Linked DNA regions of Homo sapiens: region 1 is linked to region 2. Evidence: fine-mapped expression QTL. A gene starts in region 2. The other region holds a variant in brackets. All regions are shown on one strand. Distances are from middle to middle.

Region 1 (5,215 bases), 54 kb before region 2:
ATACTAAATAGCCAATTGATTAGTTTGATTTTTTTTTCTTTTTTCTTTTTTTCTTTTTTTTTTTGGAGATGGAGTCTTGCTCTGTCACCCAGGCTGGAGTGCAGTGGTGTGATCTTGGCTCACTGCAAGCTCTGCCTCTCGGGTTCACGCCATTCTCCTACCTCAGCCTCCCGAGTAGCTGGGACTACAGGTGCCCGCCACCATGCCCAGCTAATTTTTTCTATTTTTTTTTAGTAGAGATGGGGTTTCACTGTGTTAGCCAGGATGGCCTCGATCTCCTGACCTCGTGATCCGCCCGCCTTGGCCTCCCAAAGTGCTGGAATTACACGTGTGAGCCACCACGCCCCGCATATTTTTTCTTTCAACCAATATTTCAGCCATAGGGTGACCCAAGTATGATATGCTATAGATTATATGTAACAATTTTTGAAAATCATAGATTTTTTTCATACCATAGAGGCAGAAAGGGGCCTGTTTGCCTCCTTCTCAGTCATATGAAGATTTTTCTGGAAAACACTCATTTGGGTTATATTTGATGAATATTAAGCTTTTATAGGATTTTTGCAGAATCTTGTCACTGACCTTTGTTAAATAATTGCATTACTTGAATATGTACCTCAGTTTCCTCATCAGTAAAATGAAAGGGTTGGGCTAAATGTCTGAGTCAAGATTTTACTGTAGGGTGGCCAGGTGCAGTGGCTCACACCTGTAATCCTAGCACTTTGGGAGGCTAAGGCAGGAGAATCTCTTGTGCCCAGGAGTTTGAGACCAACCTGGGTAACACAGGGAGACCCCACCTCTACAAAACAAAAAATAATAATAATTAATTAATTTAAATTTTTTTTTTTTTTTTGAGACGGAGTCTTGCTTTGTCACCCAGGCTGGAGTGTAATGGTGCAATCTCGGTTTGCTGCAACCTCCGCCTCCCGGGTTCAAGTGGTTCTCCTGCCTCAGCCTCCTGAGTAGCTGGGACTACAGGTGCGTGCCACCACGCCTGGCTAATTTTTGTATTTTTAGGAAAGACGGGGTTTCACCATGTTGCCCAGGCTGGTCTCAAACTCCTGACCTCAAATGATCTGCCTGCCTCAGCCTCCTAAAGTGCTGGGATTACAGATGTGAGCCATCACACCCAGCCAAAAGAAAAGATTTTACTGTAGGGGAAGCAGTATGCCTTAGTGGCTTAAGTTGAACATAGTTCAAATCCAATTCCTTAGAAAAGAGAGTTCATAAATTGAATCAACAACATTCAGGACTTTAGCATAAAATAGAGTATTTTGCACCAGTAGATTAAAGATTGAATAGTCATATGGAAAAAGTAAAGCCAAGTCTCTGAGTCTTTAAATCAAATAAATTTCAATGGATAAAAGATTTATATGTGACAAGGATATTTGTTTGTAATGGCAAAATGATTGGGAACCACCTCAATGTTCATCTAGATGATATTCCTTAAATAAAGTATGGTTTATTTGTACAGTGGAATACTATGCAGCTACTAAAAAAATAGGCCACTGTATAAGTACAATGAATGGAAAGATCTCAAAGATATATAATTTTAAGTGAGAAAAGCAACGGGTAGAATGGGGTATATAAAGTGCTACCATTTATGGCTTTAAAAAAAGAAAAGCATGGGAGAAAATATATATATTTGCATGTGCATGCCAGATCTTTGGAAGGATACACAAAAACTGGCAATAGTGATTGTTTCCAGAAAAAGGCCTGATGGCTGCAAGTGGATGAGAAGGAGACTTCACTTTCATATGTTTATTTGTACCTTTTGGATTATTTTGCTAGATGGATGGGTGATATTCTACTTAAAATGATACATTATATATATCCATTTTCTCACCAAGTGAAGTTCATAAAACCTGGTTCATAGGGCTATCATAAGAGCTGGATCAGATAATGTGAGAGAGAGCCTAGCGCTATGCCTGGTACGAGGTAATTGTCACACACACACACACACACACACACCCTTTTCCCACCCCTACTTGAATTATCTAGACAACCTGTGATCAAAGACATGCTGACACAGAATGGTATTTTTTGTTTCTCTCTTGGCATTGGAGGGTAGTGATAGAATTTGCAAAAGGGAAATAC[T/G]TGGCTCTCCACAAAAAAAGTGGTTTCTAATACCTTACTCTTTTTTTTTTTTTTTTACTTAGAGATTTTATTATTATTATTATTATTATACTTTAAGTTTTAGGGTACATGTGCACAATGTGCAGGTTAGTTACATATGTATACATGTACCATGCTGGTGTGCTGCACCCATTAACTCGTCATTTAGCATTAGGTATATCTCCTAATGCTATCCTTCCCCCCTCCCCCCACCCCACAACAGTCCCCAGAGTGTGATGTTCCCCTTCCTGTGTCCATGTGTTCTCATTGTTCAATTCCCATCTATGAGTGAGAACATGTGGTGTTTGGTTTTTTGTCCTTGCGATAGTTTACTGAGAATGATGATTTTCAATTTCATCCATGTCCCTACAAAGGACATGAACTCATCATGTTTTATGGCTTCATAGTATTCCATGGTGTATATGTGCCATATTTTCTTAATCCAGTCTATCACTATTGGACATTTGGGTTGATTCCAAGTCTTTGCTATTGTGAATAGTGCCGCAATAAACATACGTGTCTAACACCTTACTCTTATACCTACAGAATTCTCCTACCAAAAACCATCTCACCAATCCCTGTTACCCTCGGGATTATAGCATCAGCTTCACCATGGGCCATGTATTTGATAGCCTGTGCACTGTGGACCAGAGGCCAGAAAGTTATAACCCCAATGATGTCATCACTTTTGAAGGAACTGGGGACCCATCTCTGTGTAAGGAGAAGGTGGCTTCCATATTTGACTTCAAAGCTTGCCATGATCAAGAAACCTGTTCTTTTGATGGGGTTTATCAGCCAAAGATTAAAGGGCCATTTGTGGTAAGAGCAAAACCTTCTGAAAGATTCCTTTCCCCATTGAATATTCATTTCTCACTTTTCTGTTTCTCCTCTGCTGACTTGTTAGCCACCTTCTTATTCCTCACCCATAAACCTTTCTATTATACCCCATTCTGAGAACTAATTTTCTTCTGTATTACTTATTTCCAGGCTTTTGCAGGATTCTACTACACAGCCAGTGCTTTAAATCTTTCAGGTAGCTTTTCCCTGGACACCTTCAACTCCAGCACCTGGAATTTCTGCTCACAGAATTGGAGTCAGGTCAGTATTTAAAGAGAAGGGATCAATGTCAGTACAAAAAAATATGGTAGAATCTATTCTATGTGTGTGTATTCTGAATTTAGCCTTTATGCTCTTCTATTTCCATCACATCTGTAAAATAAAAGGAATAAGGGAATCTACTCCCACACCTGTGGTGTGAATTAATGTTATAACTACATGCACAATGGTTAGAACAATATTTGGCATATAATAAGCACTCAATGAGTTTAAAGATTAGTATATTGTGATATTATATAGGGATATTTTCATAATTATATTGTGTGATTATATGATTGTATTATAAAGTATTTTCTATTATGAAATTATGGGTGATAAGATTCTTTAAAACATGACTTTTAACCCAAGGTGTTCATTTTAAAACATACCTGCCTGCCCTGCCTCTCAGATGTTTTAAACCTTTCAGCTCCCACTGCTGCTCCCCAAATTTGATGAGGTATATGCCCGCTCTTACTGCTTCTCAGCCAACTACATCTACCACTTGTTTGTGAACGGTTACAAATTCACAGAGGAGACTTGGCCCCAAATACACTTTGAAAAAGAAGTAAGTTAAGCACAAATCATTTTCTCTTCTTCTTCCCAACAGAGAGGTTTGTATGTGTGTGTGGAACAAATGTAGAAGGTAAAAGGGTATTAATGAGTTAAACTCACTGGGTGGAAGCTGATCAGACTGATCCCTTGTGAGTTTCCCAGAAGAGGTCATGGAGAATTTAGAAGAGTTGCTCATGGGTATACATTCTCCTGGAAAAGACTGGAAGCCAAGGGCCAATGGACTAGGCGGTCCTGGAGGGCAGAGACCTGTCTTGGTATCTTCATATTCCCAGCACTCTGCACAAGGAATAGAGCCTAGAAGGTACTTAGTAAATGTTGGTTGAATTCATAAATAAATATGTTAAGGATATGAGACTTTTCATCCTGAAAAGAAGCTTTAAATGTAACAGTTTTTTAAAGAGGATAGTAACTAATTCTTCTCCATTTTATTCAGATATCAGAGTAAGATACAGGCCTTAGGGCCTGATGGATTTGCATTAGCATTAAATAAATATTTTCTCTTTGAATGAACCTGAAGTCATTATATTTACTGACAAAGATTTGGGGGATGGGGAAGATATTCTTAGCTCAGGGTTTAATATATTTAAAAATATGTATATTTATAGATATCTATAAATACATACATATATATATATGATGGTCAAGTGACCAGAATGGTCCAAAGCTGGAATCACAGCTGTCACCTGGTGACAGGTGAAAGGACCTCCATACCTTGTTTTTAGGCAGGGCTAAGCCTTGTGAATATGTTCAGCCAGCACTATGTTCCCCAGGTTCCAGAGAATTTTCTCATTTCAGGAATAGCTGATATGAAGCCTGAAGGATGTCTGGAGTCAGCCTGTTCAATACCAGCTTCAGCAATAATTAGATTAAACCAATCAATATCCTGCATTAGGCCTCTGACTATCTACTTTTACATAAATAAAATTGAGTCATCTACAAAAAAATAAGGATGTCTGGAGACATAAGGACTGTTGGTAGCATGTACTCTCTAAGCTTTGCTTCTAATAAATCTAATTACCAGTAAAGTATATTATAAGAATGGAGAATGACTTTCCATTTGAATGCCAGTTTGAGTTGACATAATATTCTAAGTTAAAAGTTCCCTTTTTTTAATTATAAAGAATTTTGTGTCCAGCCAAATTAGTATTTAAATGTGAAGATGTAGGCTGGGCACGGTGGCTCACACCTGTAATCCCAGCGCTTTGGGAGGCCGAGGCAGGCGGATCACCTGAGGTCAGGAGTTTGAGACCAGCCTGACCAACATGGAGAAACCCTGTCTCTACTAAAAATACGAAATTAGCTGGGCATGTTGGTGCATGCCTGTAATCCCAGCTACTCAGAGGCTGAGGCAGGAGAATCACTTGCACCTGGGAGGTGAAGGTTGCCGTGAGCCGAGATCACGCCATTGCACTCCAGCCTGGGCAACAACAGC
Region 2 (5,507 bases):
AAGAATATACGTCTTTCAGATTTTAAGAAATAAATCAATAATGATAAAATGAAACACGATATGGTATTAGACGTGTTCATGAAAAAGAAAAATGATACTAAAAATCAATGATATAGAAAAAGCAATGAAATATGAAAAAACTAAAAGTTGGTTCTGTGAAAAATTCAATAAAAGAGAAAAAGTATAGGTAAACAGTAATTGATACAAGAAAAGGGACAAATCCCTTCAGACATGGACATATAAAAAGTAAGATGATTTTGTATCAGTAAATTTGACAGCCTATGCCAAATTATTTTCTATGGAAGAAAGTACCAAAATTGGTTAAAGGCATTAAAAACCTGAATGGACTAATAACCACACAAGAGACGGAAAAGTTGTCAAATATAAAAAGGTGTTGGGTCCAGAATGACTTATAACAGGTGAAATTTTCATACCTTTATAGGACATTTTGGCCCTAAGTTATGCTTTCCTAAATAATATGAAACTGTATATATACCTTCTATAGACATGGTCTCACTCTGTTGCCCAGGCTGGAGTTCAGTAGTGTAATGAGTTTCTTGGTTGGATGCAAACTGGTGCATTCACTGAGGTGGGGGAACCCTGGAGGAGGAACAGGGGGATGAGGGAAGGATGATGAGATTAGTTTGGAACATTTTGAATTTTAGGCTTTTGTAGAATAATTAGAAATCAACAGGCAGTTTCAAACCCAGACCTCTAACTCCAAGCTATCTGCACACTGCCTGGCCAATAGGAAGCACTATTGCCATGAGTGTTATTAAATCTGGACTGCAGAAAGAGATACGGGAGTGTCTTACAGGAGAGTGGTGAGATACGCACGAATAATAATAATGTCAGCAATAATATAGCACTTATTTTGACTTAGTTCAGTACAGAACTGGACTCTGTCCATAAAAAGAGTCAAACTCAGTAAAATATTTAAAGAGATTTATTCTAAACTAAATATGAGGACCAGTGACCCACGACACAGCCCCAGGGGGTCCTGAGATCTTGTGCTCAAGGTGGTCGGGCTACAGCTTGGTTTTACATGTTTTAGGAAGATATAAGATATCAATCAATAAATGTAGGATGTACATTAGCTCCATCCGGAAAGGAGGGACAACTCGAAGTGGGGAGTGTGGGGGCACCTTCCAGGGCGTAGGTGGATTCAAAGATTTCCTTTCCTTTCCTTTCCTTTTTCCTTTCCTTTCCTTTCCTTTCCTTTCCTTTCCTTTCTTTTCTTTTGAAGATTTCTAACTGGCAATTAGTTGAAAGAGTTATGGACTGGGCACGGTGGCTCACGCCTGTAATCCCAGCACTTTGGGAGGCCGAGGCGGGCGGATCACGAGGTCAGGAGATCGAGACCATCCTGGCTAACACGGTGAAACCCCGTCTCTACTAAAAATACAAAAAATTAGCTGGGCATGGTGGCGGGCGCCTGTAGTTCCAGCTACTCAGGAGGCTGAGGCAGGAGAATGGCATGAGCCCGGGAGGCAGAGCTTGCAGTGAGCCGAGATCGCGCCACTGCACTGCAGCCTGGGCGACAGAGCAAGACTCTGTCTCAAAAAAAAAAAAAAAAAAAAAAAGTTATTAGCTAAAGACCTGGAATCAATTGAAGGGAATGTCTGAGTTAAGATAAGGGGTTTTGGAGACCAATGTTCTTATTATGCAGATGAAACCTCCAGGTAGCAGGCTTCAGAGAGAAACGATTGTAAATGTTTCTTACCAGACTTCAAAAGGTGCCAAACTCTTAGTTAATTCTCTACTGGATCAAGGAAAACACTTTGAAAGTGAAGGGGATTCTTTACAGGATGTAGATTTTCTTCACAAAAGACAGCTTTACAGGGTCATTTCAAAATATGTCAAAGAAATACATTTTAGGGTAAAATACTTCAGTTTATTTCAGGGCCTGTTATCTGTCACATGAGACTATACTAGAGTCAGGTTAGAATTTGATGTCTTATTGCTATAAAGAGTTTGTTTTGGGCTGGGCGTGGTGGCTCACGCCTGTAATCCCAGCACTTTGGGAGGCCGAGGCGGGCGATCACGAGGTCTAGTTCAAGACCAGCCTGGTCAACATGGTGAAATCCCGTCTCTACTAAGAATACAAAAATTAGCCGGGCGTGTTGGCACGTTCCTGTAATCCCAGCTACTCAGGAGGCTGAGGCAGGAGAATTGCTTGAACCCGGGAGGCGGAGGTTGCAGTGAGCCGAGATCGGGAAACTGTACTCCAGCCTGGGCTACAGAGTAAGACTCCATCTCGGAAAAAAAAAAAAAAAGTTTTAGTCAGTCTCAAGATCTCTGTTTTAATGTTAATGCTGGTCCGTAGTGCCTGAATTCCAAGGGCATAACGAGGCAAGTCCGATCCCCTGCTTCCCATCATGGCCTGAACTAGATTGCCAGGTTTTCTTTGGAATGTTTTGGCTGAGAGAAGTGGTCCATTCAGTTGGTTGGGGGACTTAGAATTTTATTTTTGGTTTACAAAACTGTTGCATGAATTGACTCAGTTAATTCACTGAATTTATAAATTACAAACTTTTACCATTCTCAACTGATAAATTGAGGCAACGATTTAAGTATAACTTGAGCAAGTCCATATAGAGTGGAGCCAGGAACGCAGACAATGAGACACCATACCCCATGGTCTTAGGTCACAGTCATTCAGTGGGAGACAGGGGCTATAAATTCATTAGAAGGTTAAGTTAGGAATTAAGTAATTAGGTAAGGAATTAGGAATTCAGTTAATTAAGTTACAAATTGTTAAATATGGAGGAATTTATCATGTAGTTGGGGTACTAAGACATAAGAGAAAATAATAAAGAAAAACAGGAGCGGCCGGGCGCGGTGGCTCACGCCTGTATTCCCAGCACTTTGGGAGGCCGAGGCGGGCGGACAGCTTGAGCTCAGGAGTTCGAGAACAGCCTGCGCAACATAGCGAGACCCCCGTTTCAAAAAACACACGAAAAAATTAAAATTAAAAAACAAACAAACCAGGCGCAGAGCGGTTGTGGAGAAGGGAAGCGAAGGGTTGGAGTTTCGTTTCGTGGGAACCATAGAGAAGGGCCAGCCTCCCGGCTTCCTAGAGAGGCTGTAGGGACCGACGGCCGGCCAGCTAATGCTTCCGTCTTGGCCACCTTGCGAGCGCTCGGGTTGAGTTTCCCGGGCTTCCCTGACTCGGCTACCTGTTCTGGAGGTCAGGCTTTGGGCCCTTGCAGAGGTCGCCGAGGGGCCCGCGCCGCCGCCAGAGCCTGGGCCCAGTCCCCAGTCTTCAGAGACGCCCTCGACCTTCCTGCTCCGAGGAGCTGGCCTGATGTCCTCGGGTCGCGGTATTCATGGGGAGGATGGGAGCCGTGACTATAGGGTCTCCTGCTTCCCAGGGTGGAGCGTTCAGATCCCGGTTAGGTCTTCGGTCAGCATCACCCGCTGGGACATTAAGCGTCTTACCCTTGTCACCCGGGGCTGGGTCACCACTTATATTTTGTCCTGCAGCCTGTGGTTTGTTTAGGGGTCCCCGTTATATCCTACTTTCTCTCCAGAGACTTGTTTTGGGTTTTTGCCATGAACACTAGAAGCATTCAATACAAACTGTTTAGTAATGCATTCATAGTGGGGCCAAGAATTTTTTTTAAAAAACAGCCACGAATCCACTGCAGTTCTTGACTCTTACTTTACAGATATTCTTTCTAGAGTTTCCAGTGTCACCAAGCAGATCTATAGGAGAATATGCAGAGGGAGCATTTGCAACATCCCATGAATCAGTGGAGAGGGTGAATGACAGCAGCTAGTGTGCCAAGAATATCTGCAATGCTAGTGGCAGGAGACAGAGGGGAAGAGGCGGCAAGTGTAGGAGACGAGACAGATCAGTCTCATTGTGGTTCTCTCTTAGCTCCGCAGGTTCTTACTTTTTCAAACCTAGAGGGCAGTGCATGAAGCCAGGGGTCATCAGCCATGCTCCAGACAGTGTGGTTCCAGGTGAGCAGAGCTTTCTTTCAGCTTTCCATACTCAGAACAGATATGGAAGGTCAGTACAGCCCCAGTAGCCTGACTTGGCCAGTCTCATGCTTAGTTTTACATCCTTCAATAAAGTATGTAAAAACAGTATGCGAGGGGAGTTGACGAACGAGAGTAGGTGAATTTGGGAGAGTCAGGTAGGTTGGAAAAGAAGGAATGAATTATCCTAGAAAGTGGGAATCTGCATTCATGAGAACTGAAAGTGTGGCCTGGAGATGAGCAGCTTTTGCATTACAGAGGGCTCTTGTTAGGCAAAATGTCAGGCCCCCTCCCCAGATCTCCTAAATCAGAATCTACATTTTTACAAGATCTGGAAAATTAAAGGGCAGATTAAAATTTGAGGAGTGCTAGTCTGCGTTCACAGTACACAAAGAAAAGCCATTTCTGAGGTTAAATAGACACTTCCAAGGGAGGAGTTTACCCTGCAGACCACTCAGTTAAGGTACAGTGAAGCCAGAACTGGAAACATGTGGAAAATGTAGATTGATGAGGGAGATGTATTTTTGGAGGAATGATGAGTTTGGAGCTGAAGCCAGTGCCTTTAGCTCAATGCGAAGACGTCAGTCTAACCTCTGTGAGAGTCTATATCCTTTCTTGGCTACAAATTCATGTAGCATTGGGAGGACTTTTCCCTCCAGTTTTCTTGGTGGTAGATGATGGTTTTACTGGATTTTTCTCCAGTGTCCTAGATCATGGAATGAGAAAGCTGAGTTTATCATGTAATGGATGTATCTTGTAATGAGAAAGCTCCATCCCAAGGACTTAAAAACAATGTGTGTGTCCTTTTGGTGGATATTGGACCATCCACTTCTGTTCGAGAACTTCAGCAAAAATTCATTCCTACAAGTCAGGAAGTGTGCTGTGGGGGTATGCTGTGCTCTCCTGGTGCTTTGCCTGAAGTACAGAAATCACTTAGGATTAGATTCCCCAAAGAGGACCCCAAATGACAGTGGATTAAACGAGGTAAAGGCTTCTCTCTCATACAAAAGTATCAAGAGTCAATACAGGGCTAGTGTGGCAGCTCCCCTATTATGCTCTCAGGCTCTGTCTTTCTGCTCTACCATCCTAGCAGTGTCTCACCTGCTCTAGGCCACTTTATTGTCCAAGGTGGCTGCTTGATCTCTAGCCATCATGTGTGCATTCCAGCTAGAAGAGGAGCTGCCCAAAAAAAGATGAACCTCTCTCTTTTAGGAACCTTCCCATAAGTCCCCAACAATATTTATACTTGCATTTCATTGGCCCCACTTGGTTGCCCGGGTTGAGTGCAACCTCAAGTAAAATTAGGATTCCAATACTAAGAAAGAAAGGGGGTACACACACACCTGTCAGTCTTTGCTACAATCTCTAAGAGGAACATTTGTCATTTAGAATCTTCTAGGAAGTTCCCCCAATCTCATCTGTGGTTGTAGTAAGTGCTGAGATTTAGATGATATCATGTGCCAGGTGATATCTTCGTGCGTTACAGATAATAACTTAATGCCATTCTTGTAAGAGTCCTT

Evidence for each region. PIP is the estimated chance that this variant, and not a neighbour inherited with it, causes the effect.
Region 1: its variant is the best candidate, but not a certain one, in a credible set for the expression of ZNF619 in whole blood (TOPMed, PIP 0.53).

What each region holds. Positions count from the first base shown.
Region 1 is chr3:40,420,189-40,425,403 of GRCh38, forward strand. ENTPD3 (ectonucleoside triphosphate diphosphohydrolase 3) reads left to right here. Exons shown (of 11, transcript NM_001248.4): 8 at 2,662-2,934; 9 at 3,103-3,213; 10 at 3,638-3,775. The region is part of intron 2 of ENTPD3-AS1 (ENTPD3, EIF1B and MYRIP antisense RNA 1); the gene reads right to left. Among named protein-coding and RNA genes, the nearest start is that of ENTPD3-AS1, 31 kb to the right of the region's middle. The variant T/G (reference allele first, on the strand shown) is at 2,098.
Region 2 is chr3:40,474,035-40,479,541 of GRCh38, forward strand. It overlaps ZNF619 (zinc finger protein 619), which reads left to right and starts at 3,088. Exons shown (of 5, transcript NM_001145093.4): 1 at 3,088-3,323; 2 at 3,884-3,969. The coding sequence starts at 3,946. RefSeq lists an enhancer at 3,262-3,401.